Regions from separate parts of the Homo sapiens genome. Here all the other regions are linked to region 1. The links come from fine-mapping of genetic effects on gene expression. A gene starts in region 1. Each other region holds a variant in brackets. All regions are shown on one strand. Distances are between the middles of the regions.

Evidence for each region. PIP is the estimated chance that this variant, and not a neighbour inherited with it, causes the effect.
Region 2: its variant is fine-mapped to the expression of RNF144B in fibroblasts (GENCORD, PIP 0.95). The same link has a PIP of 0.9 or more in neutrophils.
Region 3: its variant is fine-mapped to the expression of RNF144B in whole blood (INTERVAL, PIP 0.98).
Region 4: its variant is fine-mapped to the expression of RNF144B in whole blood (INTERVAL, PIP above 0.99). The same link has a PIP of 0.9 or more in monocytes after LPS.

The regions. Positions count from the first base shown.
Region 1 is chr6:18,384,838-18,389,993 of GRCh38, reverse strand. RNF144B (ring finger protein 144B) reads right to left here and starts at 2,644. Exons shown (of 8, transcript NM_182757.4): 1 at 2,364-2,644.
Region 2 is chr6:18,410,175-18,415,330 of GRCh38, reverse strand. All of the region lies in intron 2 of RNF144B (ring finger protein 144B), which reads right to left. Among named protein-coding and RNA genes, the nearest start is that of RNF144B, 25 kb to the right of the region's middle. RefSeq lists an enhancer at 1-699. The variant T/A (reference allele first, on the strand shown) is at 2,536.
Region 3 is chr6:18,473,145-18,478,300 of GRCh38, reverse strand. No RefSeq gene overlaps it. Among named protein-coding and RNA genes, the nearest start is that of MIR548A1HG, 47 kb to the left of the region's middle. The variant G/A (reference allele first, on the strand shown) is at 2,948.
Region 4 is chr6:18,464,770-18,469,925 of GRCh38, reverse strand. RNF144B (ring finger protein 144B) reads right to left here. Exons shown (of 8, transcript NM_182757.4): 8 at 1,056-4,999. The coding sequence ends at 4,859. Among named protein-coding and RNA genes, the nearest start is that of MIR548A1HG, 55 kb to the left of the region's middle. The variant G/T (reference allele first, on the strand shown) is at 2,917.

The sequences.
Region 1 (5,156 bases):
GTGGATAACTTTTCTGATTGTACTTGGAGGAGAGAAAATATTAAAGGCCTGGTTCTCATCTGTATTCACTTCCAGAAATTCACAAGCTGAAAATATTGACCATTTGTTTCAGGTAAGGAGCTTCTATAAATTAAGGTAGGCACCCCTGAAAGAAATGTTTCAGTACTTAGGAGCAATGGCTACAGATACCTATTCCCCAAAGTCCAAGTGAAAAGCATGACTTGTCTGGCAGCTTGGCCCTTTTCCCACATCCAAAATAATCAGTTGTACAAAGTAGGCTTAGTCCCAAAACTGCTCAGACTTTGTTCCTTCAGTAACATCTGGGTTCAGCATGATTCCTGACCTCTATCTCAAACTGGAGATTTCAAACACTAAAAACTTCACTCTCCAAGAAAGTAATGTCATAAAGTCAAGGCCAGGGGAAACAAAGAAGCCAGGATTAGCAGAAACACTTCGGAGAAAGGATTCTGACATACATATAAATGTTTCTAAACGTCTAAAATATTGAAATGACTTTTCAAGAAGGAAATTTTAAGTGCACCTCCTCAGATGAAAAATATTCATACTACTGAGGAGAAAGACGTTTTTCAGGAAGTTAAATGGTCATACCAGGTAGATAAAATAAGCTTTTTCTTTCCAGAGAGAGCATACTCTTCTCTCTGCTGTAGAGTTTGGCTCCAAAAACCTGGTTCATAATCTGAGACCCAAAAACTGATTATTTTAAAAAGACATGTCTTAAGCTGACCTAGTTTGGAAGCCTGAATGCCTTTAAATTGCCAATGAACTGAAACCATTCATGAGAATGGGCCTTTTGAATGCTGAGAATGTTCTTTGGGACTCAGCACAAAGATATTTGGCATAGATGACTGTAAATATTTGTAAAACTCTGGGTAAATGGGCAGGATTTGACCACACTCAAGCCCGACTTCCAGCACAGTAGTGTAGGAGAAAGTTATCTAGGGTGATTGTTTGGGGTTTTGGGGGGTTTTTTTGGTTGAGTTTTGTTTGTTTTAAATAAAAAGCCAAGCAACCCAATTCTACTACTCAACATCTTTTTCACGTTCACTATATATGTTTACCTTTTTTTAATCAAGATAATTAATTAGTCAGAGACTACTTTTGAAACTGAGGTTTTTCCCTTTCCCACTTTTCTAAGTTTATGCCCACGACAAAAATAAAAAAAAAAATGCCAGTCAAAGGTGTGCAAGGGCAGAGCAGGAGTTGTGTGAAACCATGACCTTGGATTTCATAATACAATTATCTACAAGTGGCTTTGTGGATCTGCTATAGGTTTTTCTCCCCCTCAGGATAGTTTTAGAAGTATTTAAGGCACTGCTGTCCATGAAAAGGACCCAGGTTGTGAAGGAAAGATAAACTAAGGAGAAGGAGGGACTCACAGAGGGATTTGATGTGAAAGGGACCAAGAGGCTCATTTCAGTGAAAGCTGCGGCAGACAGATACTCTAATTAGCCAGCAACTCAGTTAGGACTGGCTAGGTTCCTTTTGCCTCTTACCCACACCCTAAAAACTGAGTCATCCCAAAGTTCATTTATTTTGCTTCTGGGCACAGACACCCCCTAATCTGCTTCCTCAGAAATGTTAGATACATTGCCATTTAATTTATACCTCTCAATGTTCAAATAAACGTCCAGAAATGCCAAATCGGAAGAGCAGAGATAGTCCTGTTAAGAACCTCAGAGCTAATGTTTTGATAAGATACATGTGGCAGAAAGCAATATGAAACTGACAGTCTGTTATGAGAACATGAAAAAAGAACATTTCCCAGAGAAGGGAATTAATTTCTGGGAAATCTTTATGTGAATAGTGTATATGCATGAGGAGTAGACTTACAGCAGGATCCTTGAAACTCATGAGAAAAACAAAAGGTGTTTTAGAAAGAATAAGCAAAAGATACCTACCTTTTCCCTGCACAAACGACAATCAGTTCGATTTTAACTTAAATTTGAGAATGGCTCTCGTAGTATCAGAGTTTCACTGTTTCATTAGCAATTACCTGATAAAATAAGCACTATAATGCATAATCCGAGATTATGCCAACTTTTGGTCTCCCCTTAAGACCTAGGGAGAGGTCTGGTCTAATCTCGGATTCTACAATACATTCTATTATAGAAACTGTTTTATTAGAAATGAAACTACTTTCCTTTAACAAAGGCATTTTTCTTCTAAGTTAACAGGTGTTTAAGGCATTCAGAATGAATTCAGTTCTGTATGGTTTGAGCACTAGAGACAGAAAATCGAAAAATTGTGGTGTCACAGTGAGTTTCCTGTCCTTTTTCCTTAGTCCAGCAACACCATTCCGGTCTTGCAACGCCTGTAGCCTTTAAAAAGCTCGCTAAACCTACCTGGCAGCAGACCTGCGTTCCTCCGTCGCCGGGCTTCTCAGTAGCCTCCCTCGCGCTCACCGCCAGTCCGGGCTGCTGGCACACCGGACAGGAGCTCTTCCATTCTCTCCGTCTTTCCTCCGTGCTCTGCGGCTGACAGCTTTACACTTTGCAAGACTGCAACAGGACTTGCGCTCCCAGACCTACGGGTCGGGAGGAGGCGGAGTCCCCGACCGCCTCCTAGCCTTGACTGGCAGCTGCGATGCCCGGGACTGTTGCAGCGGGAGCGTGGGGCACAGCTCGCCAGCAGCGGTAGCAGCGCGTTTATTTATACAGGAAGCTCAGGCGCCGCACTTCCTACTTCCCATGTGGGTCGTACTTCAGCTGCAGGTGTTGGCCTTAACCCTATCCGAACCCGGGCGCGCTGCACCGACTCTACTGCTTGTCAGGACCTGTCTCTTGTTCTCCTGGGACCGCTGTTGCAGGAATTCAGAGCAGGGGGTGCAGGCAGCTGCCCCTAGCGCACTTCTTCTGCCCAGACAGGGACAGCTCACCTCTTGGCCTTAAGCGCCTGCTACCTCTCTGTCTGTACATATCCTCACAGGCCACCTTTCTTTATTTTCTCCCTCCTTCCCAGCTCTTTAAATCTCTTTCTTCTACTTCTAACAGCCCAGACCTGCCTTCCCACGTGGCAGACAACTGTTTTATAGAAACACTTCCCATGCACATCTCATCAAAAAACAGCTTGTACCTCACTTGTCCTTTTGCATCTAATGATGAAATTAGAATACCTGTGAATCAAATCGGGAATAATCTTAGTTTACCTCATAAAATACAGACACTTCTTGATGAAACAATGATTTCACTTGAAGTGCTTTGTAACTTAACTGGTTGTACCCTCAATTAAACAAAAATGTAACAAAATAATCCAGAAGCTGTGAGGTATTATGAAGTGCTTCCTTGCTCCAAACCCTTGGACACTTCATTTGTGTGACATTCATAATGAATCGCATACCTACTCATTCCCCATATCCCCCATAGATCACAATCACCTAAGTCTGCTGAACATTGCCATTTAGGAATGTCGCTCTGACACAAGAATCTGTGTTCACTCTGCAATCCCTCTCTACTTTTGCAACCACTGTCAGGAATGTGCTTCCTAAAAGGAAGGGACTCACAGGCCCTTTGTGGAAAGGATCTGTGCACGCCAACAGGCACCATTCCAAACGACACAAGCAAACATTGCTTCTCAGCCCTCCAAGTTGAAGAAAACCTCTAGGTCAAAGCAAAGTGCTGAATAACACAGTGTATCTACATGTGCCATGCTAGGGCAGGTAGGAGGACCAGCTCACCAGTCAGGGAGGAAGAGAAAAAGGACAGGGGCAATAAGATGATAAAAGAACCCACGGTAGGATATTTGAGCTTGAAAAGTCTTCCTAGCTATTTTAGCAAATAACCTGATTTTAAAAATAAGGAAACTGGGCTGGGTGCGGTGGCTCACATCTGTAATCCCAACACTTTGAGAGGCCAAGGCGGGCAGATCATCTGGGGTCAGGAGTTCAAGACCAGCCTGGCCAACATGGTGAAACCCCGTCTCTACTAAAAATACAAAAAATTAGCTGGGCGTGGTGGTGGGTGCCTATAATCTCAGCTACTCGAGAGGCTGAGGCAGGTGAATCGCTTGAACCTGGGAGGCAGAGGCTGCAGTGAGCCGAGATTGCGCCATTGCACTCCAGCCTGGGTAACAAGAGCGAAACTCTGTCTCAAAAAAAAAAAAAAAATAAGGAAACTGATGTCCAGGAAGATTTAAGAGATTGGCCCAAACCAGACACAGGCCAAGCTAGAATGAGACCTAAATCTGAGTTACATGAGGAAGGTGAATGTAAATGAAAACCATCCCAAAGGAAGTCCAACCTTCAGATTTAGCAATGGCTTAGGTTCTGAGATAATCTATTTCAAGGAATTTTCTTGGTATAGTGACCATTTTGGTGGACAGGAACTAGGAAAGATAAAAAGCAACCTCTAAGAGGTTAGTTTATTCATTGGTGTTGATGCAAATCTCCTGAGCCTTAAACCAAAGTTCAACACAGAGTCCACTTTTCAAATTACCATTCATAAATTATAATCTCTTGTTAACAGGATAAGGGAAGAAGCTGCTGCCAATATGAATGAGAACATAAGCACGAATAGTGCTGCCTATTATCCCAAATATTTTGCACAACTGAGTAACATCACCACTGATTATTTTCAACCATGCAACTATGCAAATTTTTTTTAAATTGCAGTCAAAATTTAATAAGACTAAATAAACACGTTGAATGCTATAATATTATGTGAACAAACTCTCTCAGATCTTCCTAAGGAGTCTACAGTGTGAATGGATATTCATTCTCTGGAGCATTTATTGATTTCCTCCCAGACAATCTGCTAGGTTGTATTAAGATAATGATATTAGACATGGTCTCCCTGTCCTCAAAGACCTCTCAATCCAGGGAAGGAGTAAGACAAGCAAATCAATTATCAGGGTACTGATAGTTGTACCCAATGTGTGAGTGATACATAATGTGTGATATGATAGACTTAAGCATGATGTGCTATTGGGAGCACAGAGAAGAAGAATTTAAAGGAAAGGAGTTGATGAAAAGAATCAAGTCTTCTCTGAGAAGGTGATTATATTAATCTGTTCTCACATTGCTATAAAGAAATAACTGAAACTGGGTAATTTATAAAGAAAAGAAGTTCAATTGGCTCATGGTTCTGCAGCTGCACAGGAAGCATGGCTGGGGAGCCCTCAGGGAGGTTACAATCATGGTA
Region 2 (5,156 bases), 25 kb before region 1:
CAGCCTTCAGAACTATGAGTAGTGGATTTCTGTTGTTGATAAATTACCTAGTCTCGCGTATTTTGTTATATCAACACAAAAGGACTTAGGCACAATCTAAGAGATAGTTGGTATACGGTCAGCCCCCCGTCCTCAGATTTCACATCCATGGATTCAACCAACCACGGACAGAAAATATATTTTTAAAATCACAATAAGAAATACACAAAAAATACAGTAGAAAACCCATTTATATAGATTTACATTGTATTAGATATTATAAGTTACCTAAAGATGATTTAAAGTATATGGGAGGATGTACATAGGTTACATGCAAATACTACACCATTCTATATAAGGGACTTGAGCATTCATGAATTTGGGTATCTTTGGGGTGGGGAGTGGGAAGGGGCTTGGAACCAATATCCTGAAGATACCAAGGGATAACTCTACAGGTATTTGTTGTAAAAATCTTTATCTTGTTTCATAACAAACTGTTGTACAATTTTTTCCATCTTTTTAAAAGTTTTTGTTCTTTTTCACCTTCAAGAATAGAAACAGGATGTTGTACAATATTTTAAAACTAAAAGCAAAAGATAAAATTTATACCATTCATCAAATCTCAGATTTTAATACTGCTTAAAAGCAGAAATCCTATATTTTAAATAAAATCTGTCTCAGTATTTAAACCAGTTTGAATAAATTATAATGAAATAATATCTTAATTAAAACTAATCATATATATACCTACTACGTATCTATACAAATTAAAACATTTTTAAATAAAACTAGTGGTAGCAATATTAATAACTATCTGAATTTTTGAAATTTTAAAAGAATATTAACACTGTATAAGTGACAGAATAAAGCTAACTCATCACCAACATTTTTTCCTACAGGATATAACCTACAAAGCCAGCATGCAAAATAGCTCATATTAATGACCCAAAAGTTGGGAAAGAGTGACGCTTAACAGTTTCCTCAAGAAGATATTATTTCTATACATGGAATGATAGGAACAAGGGACATCAGTTAAGAATAGACCTAACCCTTAAACTTCCTCTTGAGCTACATTACAAAAGAGAATCTCTTAGATTTAAGAGAACTGAACTCTGAAAAAGTAGAAAAGGTTGGACAATGACTAGGTTGGTTATTAGAAATCTCATTTTATTCAAAATTATTTTGAAATAATGATATTCAATGACTCCACAGCAAAATCAGCATCTTTCTAATTATAAGTTACATTGCATCAAGACCACGACTATTCCTCACCTCACAATATTCCCCCGAGGATTTATCCTGCAAAACCTGGAATTTTTTTTAACATTTTCTAAAAAGCAAGTTTTTAGAAGTCAAGGGGCTTCATATTGAGTGGGCTTTTTTCATATTAATTGACATAATTTGAACCAGTCTTCCTTTTCTGAAGGTTATCAATACCATAAACCGTAAGATAAAGTTTTTCAAAGGCTAGACATCATTCCATATTAAAACAATCTTTAATTAACACATTACCTAGGGAAAGCAGATGTTAAGCTATAATATTTTTTTCCATTTGCAGAAAAGGTCTCTGTGCTCTGCAGTAACCCATGCATTAAACACCCTCAACACAGAAGAATCACTTGGAAACAACCGTCAGACTGAGGTCCTCTTAAGAACACCAGTAACTTCCACAGACACAATGCGCCTGGAGGGTGGGAGAACATCAGTCATTGAGGCAGAATGCCTGGCCTTGAACCTTGACTTCAGTTTCAACATCTGAAAATATGCTAAATGCACTGGGAACTTCCAGTTGTGTAAATCAGACCTCTGAATGTCTCGGCCTTGGTTTCCTCAAATAACTTACCCGAAATCACACAGTGGAAAGTTCACAGAACACTCATGTTCATGCTCAATCTCTAATATGAGGCCATGGCCACCACTATATTCTGATTACATACTTTCTGTTCTCTGAAAAACTCCTTGGATTTTTTAAACCAGTAGTTCTTTACATTTGTTTTGTACTGACTAAACTTTTACGTATATAAAATCAGTAGCCAGTTGTCAATTTTGCATTTTATAGGCTATTGTCAAGCTTTAGACATTTCAGGTTAAGATCACAAAAGCCAAATATGGGCCTTCATCCATTTTCATGCTAACAAAAAAAATTTAGGAACCACATACTATGTGCTAGGCCATACATTATATATTTTCACAGAGCTTGTTTTTATTTCTTCCAAACGACACTATGATGTAGGGATTAACATTACAGATCCTGGGCAAGTTATTTAACTCTGAATTGGTTTATCTGTAAACTGGAAGAGTAAATGGGGGAAAAAATAGTACCCTTGCATATTACATATTATATGAAAGGTACTCAAATGCCCTTGCTTTTCCTTCCGTAATTTTTTTAAACAGATGAATAAAATGAGGTTTAAGCAGATTGAAAAAATACCCTACATTCATGTAGTAAATACCTCACACATATTTTCCAGAAGAGTCAAACCAAAAAGACCTCCTTACTGTGGGTGGGAAATGATTCAAAACCATGGAGGCTTTCAGTTAACACAGAGCCATGTA[T/A]TTCCATGGAAATGAGGCACTGTGTCTCACCTGATTCCAAGGGGTACACTGCATATCTGGAATCCACATAGATAAGCCTTATATAACCAATCTTTAATGAACTGAAATATACAGAAAATGGGATTTTAAAAAACTGAATTTTCTAGTTAACTCACCACCCTTTTTCAACTTGCCTAAATTTTTTAAACCTCCTTTACCTACTTAGTAACATTTTGTCACTGGACATGAATTTTTTTGTGTGATAAGGCATCTCCCTCAGTCTGAACACCACCATTTTTTCATTCATTCATGTCTTCTATGTGTAATATACTTTTCTAGATATGGCCCATTTTTTTCTAACTTGATTACTATTAATACCAAGGTATAAAATCAGTTGAAACTATACTGGCACTGAGCATACTGTATGTTTTTTAAAGATAGATTCATGAGATGAGCTTCTCTTACAACAATTTGCTTCCTCCTAAAAAGAGGAAGTATGGATTAAACCATGAGATATGTTCTTTTCACATACCAGATTACAGAAGGTGAAAAGTTGGAAAATACCCGGAGTGTCAAAAGAGAGGCCTCTGTTCCTACTCTGTTGGTGGAGTTGCCAAGCTGGTGCAACAGTTTGGAACAGTAATTTGGTAACACATACTGATTTAAAATGTACATCTATTTTGGTTAGGCAATTCTATTTCTAAAAAGTTATCCTAAGGACAGGTATTTTCACATTTATATAAGTAAAAAAAATGTATTCATAATAGCAAAAACTAGAAACAACCTTAAAATCCATTATTTAGGAGGGGCCCAGTTAAATAAATTTTCATACAACCATATCATAGAACACTATACAATACTTAAAAAGGAAGGTTGGTCTGTATATTTTTGCACAGAAACTTGTCCACAATGTACTATGTTTGTAAAACTCAAGTTAAAAGTATCTGTAGTTAAAGATCCCATTTCTCTATTAAGTGATGTGCGTAAGTACACAGGGAAAGAGTCTAGAAGAAAGTACAGGTGGGCTGGGCGTGGTGGCTCACGCCTGTAATCCCAGCACTTTGGGAGGCTGAGGTGGACAGATCACCTGAGGTCAGGAGCTCGAGACCAGCCTGGCCAACCCCCTCTGTACTAAAAATACAAAAATTAGTTGGGTGCGGTGGCGCATGTTTGTAATCCCAGCTACTTGGGAGGCTGAGGCAGAAGAATCACTTGAACCCAGGAGGCAGAGATTGCAATGAGCCGAGATCACACCACTGTACTCCACCCTGAGCGACAGGGCACAACTCCGTCTCAAAAAAAAAAAAAAAAAAAAAAAATATATATATATATATATATATATATATATATATATGAATCATGCACATGCTTTTTGAGGTTTTTTGGTTTATTTTTAAATTAGCATGTGTTACATTTATAATTAAAAATTATCTTCAATGTAATAAACCAAGAGAGCCCTGAAACATGATTATTTTGTACTTTAGGGTCCTATTTCTTCTATGAGTACTAGCCATGATTTTTAAAAATGTACTTTCACTGGGCACGGTGGCTTATTCCTGTAATCCCAGCACTTTGGGAGGCCGAGGCAGGCAGATCATAAGATCAGGAGATCGAGACCATCCTGGCTAACATGGTGAAATCCCGTCTCTACTAAAAATACAAAAATTCCCTGGGAGTGGTGGCACGTGCCTGTAGTCCCAGCTACTCAGGAGGCTGAGGTAGGAGAACTGCTTGAACCCGGGAGGCGGAGGTTGCAGTGAGCAGAGATCACGCCACTGCACTCCAGCCTGGCAACAGAATGAGACTCCGTCTCAAAAAAAAAGAAAAGAAAAGAAGAAAAAAAAAGAAAAGAAAGCTGACAGTATCCCAAATGGATAGGAAAAAAGAGAAATTGGGGCACAAAAATAATTTAAATACTCCAGGCATCAAAACTGCAGTCTGCCATACACATGTATCCTAAGTTGATAAGGACATTGTTCTCCGAGCTCTGCTTCAGCCTGCCATGGTTCCCTCCTCCTGCTCCAGCCTTGCCCACTTTCAGTCCATTCTCTATCCTGTACCGACGCCATCCTCCCTATCTCATTCCCAAACAAAGCCTTCCAGTGGCTCCATAATGTTTTTTTAACACAGCATACCAGGCCCTCCATCTAGTCTCTGCTTGCCTCTCTGGCCTCCTGCCTGAGCACACCCACACTTCCAACAATGTGTCCCAGGAACATCTTCCGGTTTGGTTCCTCAGCAGGTCACTCTTCCCTGATTCTGTGTTCTCACATGTGGCTGGCCTCTTTTCCCTGGAGCACTGTTCTCACCCACAGCCCCATCAACAATGCCATCAAGCAATCCCTATTATCTTTCAGTCTCAGCCCTTAGGAAACCTCCTACCTCCCTGAGTCTATTTTAGGTGGGTTTCTGTATGCTTTATAACATATTGTACTTCCTTTATCAGAGGGTCTACTGCCCACATAACAGCAGGGCTGGTTGTGTCTGATGACTGCCACTTGCTCCACAATTAACACCATGCCTGGCACACACTAGTACCAAATGGATCAGTAGAGTCTGGACAAAGGTGGGAATAGACTTAGAGAATATTGGAATAAGGGTGCAACTTCAAAAGAAGAAATACATAAACTTTGGTGACTTAG
Region 3 (5,156 bases), 88 kb before region 1:
CCCTAAGCGTTAACTGATCAACACACAAGAAACCTAGGGATGCTGAGCTTTTCTTACACTTTTTGTTGCATTGAATGCCGTGCTTGTCTCTCATATGACAGGCAGCTTCTCCTTTCTTTCCCCTCCTAAAGTAATGGATATTGATTAACAGAAGGCCAATTTGACCAGAATACAGTGTTCCTCCTCTCTCTTCCCAGGTCTCTGGGTTCAATCACATTAAGCAGAGCTCTAACAGCTACTCTATCAGACTTACAGAGAGCAAAAAGTTTCCATGGGCATAGGGCAAAAGAATATTCTAATAAGGACAAGCTAATCATCAATTATAGCAGAATAATTAAGTTGTTTTGTGACAAGCTTTAGTTCTTCACATACAAAATGGAAGTATATAACATCAGATTGCATCAGTTTATCTTATGAGCAGACAGAGTGGCAGCAGAGGGGAAGACACACCTCATGCACTTTCAAAGAGAATTTCTTTCCAAGTAAATGAAAACAACATGGTCAATTAACTTCCTCAAAGCACTTTCAGAACTCAACTCCATTTCCCGTCTTTGTCAAGCTAGTTATGTACTTCAGTGCTCCTGGCTTTCCCCCAAAAAGGAGAAGGCATTTGGGTTGAAAGCATTTCTTAAATGAATTAATTCATCACTCTAAGAAACTCTCCTGTACCCCCTACTTTCATAAGAATTAACTAAAGTTATAAAACAAAGTAGAAATGCATCTCCCACTCAGTTTTTATGCATCCAATCTGGCTGCTCCTTCAGCATACCCTATGAGTAATTGTATTTATTCCCTGCTTTGTTCCAAAAATGATTTAAGGGTGAGTCCTATGAATAAGCCTCACATTAATGAAACCCTTTCTAAGCTGGCTCTGAGTAAAGACTGATAGCAATTTTATGGAGGTTTTAATATTCAATACAGTAACATGTTCGAGTACAAAACAACATTACAATGGAAAACTTTTTTAAAGCACTAGTTTGGTGGATGCTATAGTTACCAAAGTGTTATTGGGTTTGGTTTTGTTTTATGTAAGATCTTTCTCATTTGCTTTCCCCTGACATTCCCTGCAGACACCAACCTGGATCAGGCTCTCATTAAATGATACCTGGACTATTGTAGTACTGTCCTCAAACTGGCCACGCCACTTCCAGCTTCTCTCCTTGCAATTTAACCAACAGACTGTTGTCAGATTAACCTGCTAAAATGTAGCTTTGCACATACCTTTTTTTTTTTTTTTTTTTTGAGACAGGGTCTCACTCTGTTGCCCAGGCTGGAGTGCAGTGGCACCATCACGGCTCACTGCAGCCTTGACCTCCCAAGGCTCAGGTGGTCATCCCACCTTAACCTTCCAGGTAGCTGGGACCACAGGTGCATGCCACCACACCTGGCTAATTTTTGTAACTTTTGGTAGAGACAAGGTTTTGCCATGTGGCCCAGGCTGGTCTCGAACTCCTGGGCTCAAGTGATCCTCCCATGTCAGCCCCCCAAAGTGCTGGGTTTATGGGCATGAGTCACTGCACCTCACCCCACTCTTCAAGCACAGAACCCTGAAATGGCTCCTCACCCCAAAAAGAACCTGTCAACACGGGAGCCTGGCACTCAAGGTTCTCTGTTTCTGCACCCCACAGGTGCTTTATTTCTGTTTCATTCAGTTATTTCTCACTCCCCATGTCACACTGTTGTCATCATGCCTCCTCTCTGTAATGCCCTTGCTGATCACAATCCTGTCTCTCAACACCCTGATCAGCATCATCTCCATGAAATGTGAATTGAAAAGTTCCAACAATCTCACTCCTTCTCCACAGGTTCATGGCACCTGTCTACACCAATCACCTGGCATGTACCAGGCATGACCCAATGCAGTCATTCCTTTTTCTGTAGACCAACGTATTCTTTCTCCTAAACCTAACTAAGCCACTTGAAACAACTAATTGAGACACATTTGTTTGTACAAAGAAGGCATTCAATATATGTTTGGTGATTAAAATAACCTAGTAGACTTGCTCATGCTTCTCAAACAGGTGTATGTAACACCCCAGGGTATTGTGGGGTACTGGAGGATACAAGACAAAGATAAAGCATCTTTAAGAAGTTAATTTTGGCCAGGGACAGTGGTTCACACCTGTAATCCCAGCACTTTGGGGGGCCGAGGCGGGTGGATTACCTAAGGTCAGGAGCTCGAGACCAGCCTGACCAATATGGTGAAATCCTATCTCCACTAAAAAATACAAAAATTAGCCAGGTGTGGTGGTGTGCGCCTGTAGTCCCAGCTACTCGGGTGGCTAAGACAGGAGAATCACTTGAACTCAGGAGGTGGAGGTTGCAGTGAGCCGAGATCGTGCCACTGCACTCCAGCCTGGGTGACAGAGCAAGACTCTGTCTTCAAAAAAAAAAAAAAAGAAAAAAGAAGAAGTTAATCTTACTTCAATAATTTAAAATGTAATCTTTAAAATGAAATCAGGCCAGGTCTGGTGGCTCACACCTGTAATTCCAGGATTTTGGGAGGCTGAGGCAGGAGGATTGCCTGAGCTCGGGAGTTTAAGACCAATCTGGGCAACATGGTGAAACTCTGTCTTTACAAAAAAATTAAAAAATTAGCGGGGTGTGGTGGCATGCACCGTAGTCCCAGCTACTCAAGAGGCTGAGGTGGGAGGATCACTTGAACCCAGGAGGTCAAGGCTGCAGTGAGCCGAGATCATCACGCCACTGCACTCCAGACTGGCCGACAGAGCAAGACCTTGTCTCAAAAATAAAAATAAATAAAATCAGGCCAGTTGTGGTGGTTCACACCTGTAATCCCAGCACTTTGGGAGGCCGAGGTGGGAAGCTGCTTGAGCCCAGGAGTTTGAGGCTACAGTGAGTCCTGATCGTGCCCCTGTACTCCAGCCTGGGCAACAAAGCAAGACCCTGTCTCTACAAACAAAATTACTTAATTAAAATCAAAATA[G/A]TATGGAGGTTATAATTTTTAATGAATGTTTAAATGAACAATAAAATTAAAAAATAAAACCAGAGACCTCAAATAAGTGTCTAGCCCTCAGCAGTTAGCTTGGGACAATGCTTCCAGGTCATCTTCTGTTCCCTCCAGTAGTAAATTAACATTCTTACACCAGTTGAGGATATTTATTGTTTGAGAAATACCCTGCAGATTATGAATGGGGAGTGGGAGAAGAATACAACCACTTATTTTTATCATTTTCATTTTAAGGTGCAATCAACACACATTTTTGTTTTCCTTAAGGTAGGTAAAAGAAATTAAACCTGAAGATTTTTTTCAAGTTTTTTTTTTTTTTTTTTTTTTTTTTTTCTGAGACGAAGTCCCGCTCTGACACCCAGGCTGGAGTGCGGTGGTGCGATCTCGGCTCACTGCAAGCTCCGCCTCCCGGGTTCATGCCATTCTCCCACCTCAGCCTCCCAGGTAGCTGGGACTACAGGCGCCCACCACCACGCTCTGCTAACTTTTTTGTATTTTTAGTAGCGATGGGGTTTCACCGTGTTAGCTAGGATGGTCTCGATCTCCTGACCTAGTGATCCGCCCACCTCGGCCTCCCAAAGTGCTGGGATTACAGGCGTGAGCCACCATGCCCCACCACAAGTTCTTATTTTACTTCCTTGGCTATGACACACTTGTGATATCAGATGTAAATATGAGGACTGAGTTTTAGTATGACCACTCTTAAAACTTTTAAAGCATTCTTTGAATATTTAATTAACTTGTTTTTTTAATTAACTTATTTCTTTATTTACCGTTTTTCAAAGTTCACAAGTAGTTTTGTGTTCTACTTTTGAAAATCGAATTCATTAAAGACTGAATAAAAATTTTGTTAACAAAGTCGATGTGCCTATTTATCTTCTCATTCACACAAACATACATGCATATATACTATCCTATATGCTATCAATATATATACCTTAAATTTAACTCAATTTGCAGAAAATACAATGTATACTGAAAAAAATTAATAACAAGCCCCTTAGACTAACACACTCATAATAATCCATGGTGTGCTTCAAATAAGGAGAGTGAGGTCCTGATATTTTTTGTATAGGTACTAGAAGAAACATGTCCCTGGAAATTCCCCAAGCAACTTTGATTATAGGTCTTTTTAGCCACCAAGAGCTGTAGATAAACCATGAGGTTCAACCACTACTCTTTGAATTTGCTCATTTTAAGTAAATTGGCAATATATTTCATATGCTTCTGGCATTATCCATAACAGCATCTGGAAGCTGCTTCTGAGGATTACTTTGTCTAAGAAGGAGAATTTCCCTTGAGCTAACTAGTTTCATGCATATAGAGCTCACAGAGGGGGCTGGAGGTTTTTTCCATCTTAGTCAAAATGTTAGGTTTGTACTGAACCTAGAAAACAGTTACTTCCTAATTTTCTAGATGAGGCAACCGAAGCCAAGAGAAATTGTAACTTGTCCACAAGAGACTAGGAGAGCTATCAAACTTCCCTCCAGTCTTTCATTTCTAGTCAAAAGCATGGCTATGCTAGTTTAAAACATCTACAGCATCTGGCCGGGTCTGTATTGCTGCACTGGGGGTGGGAGAGGGGAAGAGGCAATGACCTTGACTTTTGTTGCACGTCCCTCAACAACAGGCAGTGACTGGTTAACTCAGATCCATCTGCTTTACTGGTCTGACTTGAATGGAAACACCATCCTGTACTTTAAGCCAGCTCTTAAAAGAGTTGTCCTTCCTGAATCCAAAACAAGATTCAATCCAATCCTGAATCTTCTGAAGGTTTGTTTAGAAAGCTCAGATCAGGTTTTCTTCTGAGTCCATTTAAGAAAATCTGTCCCACATATAGACCAAATGGACCTCCCAAGGACACTAGCCAGAAGCAGAATTGCTGATCTCCTTGGCTATACTAGACCCAATTCCAACGGTAAGTCAACAGTTCCCAGGTAGAAGTTAGATTTTGCTAACTCTTCCCCAAGTTTGTGATGTCTTCAAGCAGATTCTATTACCTGTGAAAACTCTTTGCCTTCATGGGGCTGGGAAACAGAACAGATTTTAAAAAGCTAAATTTCCTTTTGAAAATGACAAATATACATACTCTCGTAGCCATTAAAATGTAAAATGGAAGCCAGAGATGTGTCAGAAGAGGAAGCCAAAGAGGTCTGAAGTATGAGAAAGACTCAATGAGCTGTTG
Region 4 (5,156 bases), 80 kb before region 1:
GTATTTTTAAATGATCTTATTGATTTCCTCAAAACTGAATGATTAGAAAATGAAATTTGAATTGTACATCAGTTGTAAACCTTTGTATGCAGGTACCATTTTAGAAGCATCCAGCCTTCAATAAAAAGGTTTCAACACCAGTACAGGAGAGTGAGCTTTCGGTTTTATGGAAACACAAGCTCTAGTTGTTAAGTAATCTTTGGCACCCAACTTAAGACCTGCCTCGAATACTAATTCAAATGGAAATGACCTTAACACTCTTAAATCCTTTCTTAAAAAATCATAACAAGGAAACACATGCCTCTAGCAGACTTTTGGAAGGTTAGAACTGACCTTAGCGTTTAGTCCAACCTTTATTGTACAGAACAAATGGCTTTGACACTTGGCAGCATTTTTTATTAGAATGATCAAAGATCTGTATTATTGGTTATTGCTCTGGATAATGATGAGTTCCTATGCACTGGCAGTGTGGACTATCACACCTACAAAGAAGAAAGTGTGTAACAAAGGCATTACACTTGCCACCCCCCCACCCCCTTTTTTTTTTTTTTGAGACCGAGTTTCGCTCTTGCTGCCCAGGCTGGAGTGCAATGGCACAATCTTGGCTCACCGCAACCTCCACCTCCAGGTTCAAGCAATTCTCCTGCCTCAGCGTCCCAAGTAGCTGGGACTACAGGCATGTGCCATCATGTCCAGCTAATTTTTTTTTTTTGTATTTTTAGTAGAGACAGGGTTCTAATTTTTTGTGTTTTTAGTAGAGACGGGGTTTCACCATGTTGGCCAGGCTGGTCTCGAACTCCCGACTTCAGGTGATCCGCCCACCTTGGCCTCCCAAAGTGCTGGGATTATAGGCGTGAGCTACCACACCTGACCCCCTGACCCTATTTCTTTTAAGAAGTAAAGTAGCCAAGAGTTATTTCCATAGATGGTATTGCAAATTCTGGTACATTTTGTAAATTCAGAACCTAGGATTTAACAGTAACTTGGTTGGTTCTCAAAGGATAAAACTGAACATGCCTAGAATTGTGCAGCGCAACAAAGGTTAACACACTTGATTTCCTGCTTACATTTATTGTGGCTAGAGAGCCTAAACAGCTATTTTCTTCTCCAAAAATTGGAAAAATATAACACGATAGCAATTTTTTAAATACATAAAACTTCCTGGATCATGAATCAACATGAGACATAATAGCCTGTAGATATCAATTGTGATCGCTTTATAAAATGTCATTCATCTAATGCATTTCTGAAATTGCCCTTAAAGCTACACATACACACATGACTCTATATCACATAAAGGCATCCATTCATGAACAGAAAGAAAAGTCTTTTATTAGTACTGTGTAGGGAAGGCTAAAGAAATATACATTTAATTCAGAATAATTTTTAAGAAAAAACGTGGGGTTCCAAGAAATGGTGATTTACATTCAAATGAACATGTACATTTGCAAACCTGGATAAGTAGATATTTTCATGAAGCACGCTACAAGAAAATTCACACAGAATTATTTGTTTTTCAAAGGCCTCTTTCAAAGTACAGACTCCAAGTCCAAAGCAAATACCCATGGCATGAACAAATAGGATGCCTAAGATTCTAACATTTGCTTCGGCATGGCTTTCCTCCTCACTTCCCTACCTCACAACAAGAAAAAATTTCCTAGATGGGACAATGGCAAGATATTGTGCTAATACGTTTCATAGGATTTCTAGATGCTGGGCTATAACATCCAGGTTACAATTTGGTGACGGATTTTTTTATTTCTATTGCAAATGGACTACACTCCAAACACAAAAAGATTCTTGCCATAGCATCCAAACATCCCTATGTAGACCCACACTTCCTCTCAATACAGAAAGAGAATCACTCAGAAAGGACAAAGCTGGCAGACCAAGAAAGGAGGCAAGGGTAAACTCTGTCACTGGCCAATTATCTAAAACAAAAATAGCAGCCTCTGTTATCAAAGTTGTCAGTTAAAACTGTCAGCTGTCAGGCACAGTGACACACACCTGTAATCCCAACACTTTGGGAGCCCAAGGTGGGTGGATCGCTTGAGCCCAGGAGTTTGAGACAAGACTGGGCAACACAGAGAAACCCCATCTCTACAAAAAATACAAAACTTAGCCAGGTGTGGTGGTGTGTGCCTGTAGTCCCAGCTGCTCAGGAGGATAAGGTGAGAGGAACACTTGAGCCCAGGAGGTAGGGGTTGAAGTGAACCATGATCATGCCACTGCACTCCGGCCTGGGTGACAAAGGGAGACTCTGTCCAAAAAATAAAAATAAAAATAAGTCGCCAGCTCTCTCCTTTATAAACAGTCTTTAGACTGGTTTGTATCATGCCCCTTGATGTACCAGAGATATGTTTAACCAACCTAGTTTTGTTGATTCTGACAATCTCACACACATTTAAGAATTTACCATTTTTCAGGCACTTTTCAATGTTAAAAAAAATTAAATCCAATTATTGAAAATCAGTTTGACAAACAACCCCCACTCCATAGCCCTGGCAAAAAAAAAAAAAAAAAAACAAAAGCAGCTAATTCAGTGATACAAACTCTGTAAGGTGGCAAATTCCCTCAACTCGCCAAGGAAATAGCACATATTTATTTTCTCCCATCTTTACTCCAAATTTGGGACCTCTTCCTCTGATAACACAGTCTTTTAGGTTACTTGAAATCAGCCCCCATTTAAAGACTCTTTGCAGCACCAAGCTTAAAGAGTTTACTGACAGAGGACTTTGCCACTATTAACATTCTTGTTACAAAAATTCAGTTTCAGTTGAGTTCTCGTAATCCCCTGAGCAGTTATAAATGCCTTTTACCTATAATGAGGCAGTGGGCTACGTGTAAAACAAAGCAAATTAACTATTCAAATATATGTAAATCTATAATTATACTAACATGAACTACACTGATAGT[G/T]TTTTTTTCTGAAGTGTTTAGAGTTTCAAAAGAAAAAGACACAATATTGAGAAATTTCTAATAAATGATTAAAAATGATTTTGGTTGGTTGCCATTCCCAAGTTTTCCCAGAGTTCTCATCTATGTTCTACACAACATGTAAATTAAAATGTACATAACCAACAGATGTACTATACACACATCAGATATCAATATATACTTGTGAATTAAAGTTCCTGAAATATACACATCCCCACTTAGGATATATCCTATTACATAGGCAAAGCATCATCCTTTAACAATAGGTCCGAGATAGCAGCAATTTGATATTCTATTACCCAGTTACCTCAGAAAATATCATAGATCCTGAATAGTTCCTGATATGGTATCCCTGGCTTCAAGAACTCTCCAGTAACATTTAGCATAGGTCTCATGAAGCACCAGGCTACATTGCCAATAGCAATTATATAATCCTGTCATTGGAGAAAAGGTTTTATCCTTTCAAAACCTCGTTATTCAAATCTGACTAATGGTATAATGGAAAAAATAAGTCACAATGAGGTGATACATAAATTTAAACTAAATTATATAAAGCATTTCTATTTTATTTCTTACATGTTTTTGTTGCGGTTTTATCAGTGCCTTGAAACAGAAAGTATTCAGACTGTCCTAACAGATGCTGAAAGAGCAATAATGATGCTGAGAAAAGAGCTATTCTGTGTTCGAAAACATGTAAATGACTCGGTTATCAATTAGCGTTTTTACAGAGATGGCAGGATATTGTACTAAGCACTGTTTTAAAAGAGTTATGAGTCTATACCCTTGGGTAAGTTATGAACTTACAACCAAAATTCACATATATAATATGCAAAAAATCTTTAGGCAGATTTACAATAAACCATTTCAGTCACAAAAGGATAGAATGGCTCTTAAGTAAACATTTATTTTGTGTGTACTATTGGGTATATCCATGCATGCTCAATGGATAGAAATTACAGGTAGGCTGCAAGTCACATGGATTCTAGATGTACATAATACGCACTTTAATATTTACCCTCCATGTGTACTCTTAGGCCTGATTCCAAATCTATTGGCTGTGTGAACACAGATCCTGAGAAAGGTCCCAGATATCTATGACGAAAGTTTTGAAACTCTACCACTCTACCCGTATTTTATATGAAACAATTCTGTAGACCACAGCCACTGGCTGTAAGAGACAAGTTGGCCAACTTAGAAAACTTACATTTGCCAAGGGAGAGACACTAAATTAGACCACATTGTTTAACAGGCTGCAACTCTTTTACTGGGAAGGGGCAACTCCCTCTGCACAGCAGTTTCACCTGCTTGAAGCTGAGATCACACAAGGAGAAGCCTATTGTGTTTCTGCCAAATCACAGCGGGAACATGGGGACAGCACACCCAGTAGCCAGCAGAGGCACAACCACCATATCAACTGCTGAGATCAGCAGCCTGCTTTATAGCTCCTATGAGGATTTCTCCTTACGCAGTCTTATCCTTCTCCTCATCAGGTTTCCCCTGTGTTTCTCATGGCAGTCAAATCAACACAGAACAGACTCCAGCTTCTTGGTTATCTTGTATGTTGCCAACAATGACAACACATTTGTTATATCAAATGTTCCCGCAAGCTCCTTGAATTTGGCTGGAAGTTGAACAGTCCAGTGAGATCCTTTGGATGATAAAATGATATGTTCATTCATCTCAAGGAACCCCAAAGCTCCATAGAAACAGCTGGACCGTTGAGCCCAGTTCTTGTTACACAGGAACACTCACACCCAGGACTTGGCCTTTCCTGATGCTGAAGGCTGGCAGGCAAGTTCAAAGTCTGGACACGGAGGCACTTTCAAAGTTGGCAAGGAGAAGGAGGCAAGGTCACTAAATGGGGCTTTATCACTGTGCCATCTCATGTAACTCACATATCTGGGGCGTATGAACACAGAGATCTTTAGGTTGTGGATGGGTCGTGCTTTTTCTTCTTGCCCCGACAGGACTTGCAGACACAACAGATTATACATGGGGAGGCCAGGAGTAACAAGGGTGAAGTAACCAAGGCAATGATGCCCAAGCCTACGAGAATCCCCACCACCTGGAAATTTCAAAGAAAAGCATATTTCAGCAATTAAGTCTTTCAATATGTATACTTATTCCAACTATACTGTTATCTGCTGTGGGCCAAATGTTTGTGTCCCCCTGAAGCTCATATGTTGAAACCCTAAATCCCCGATGTGACGGTATTTGGAGAC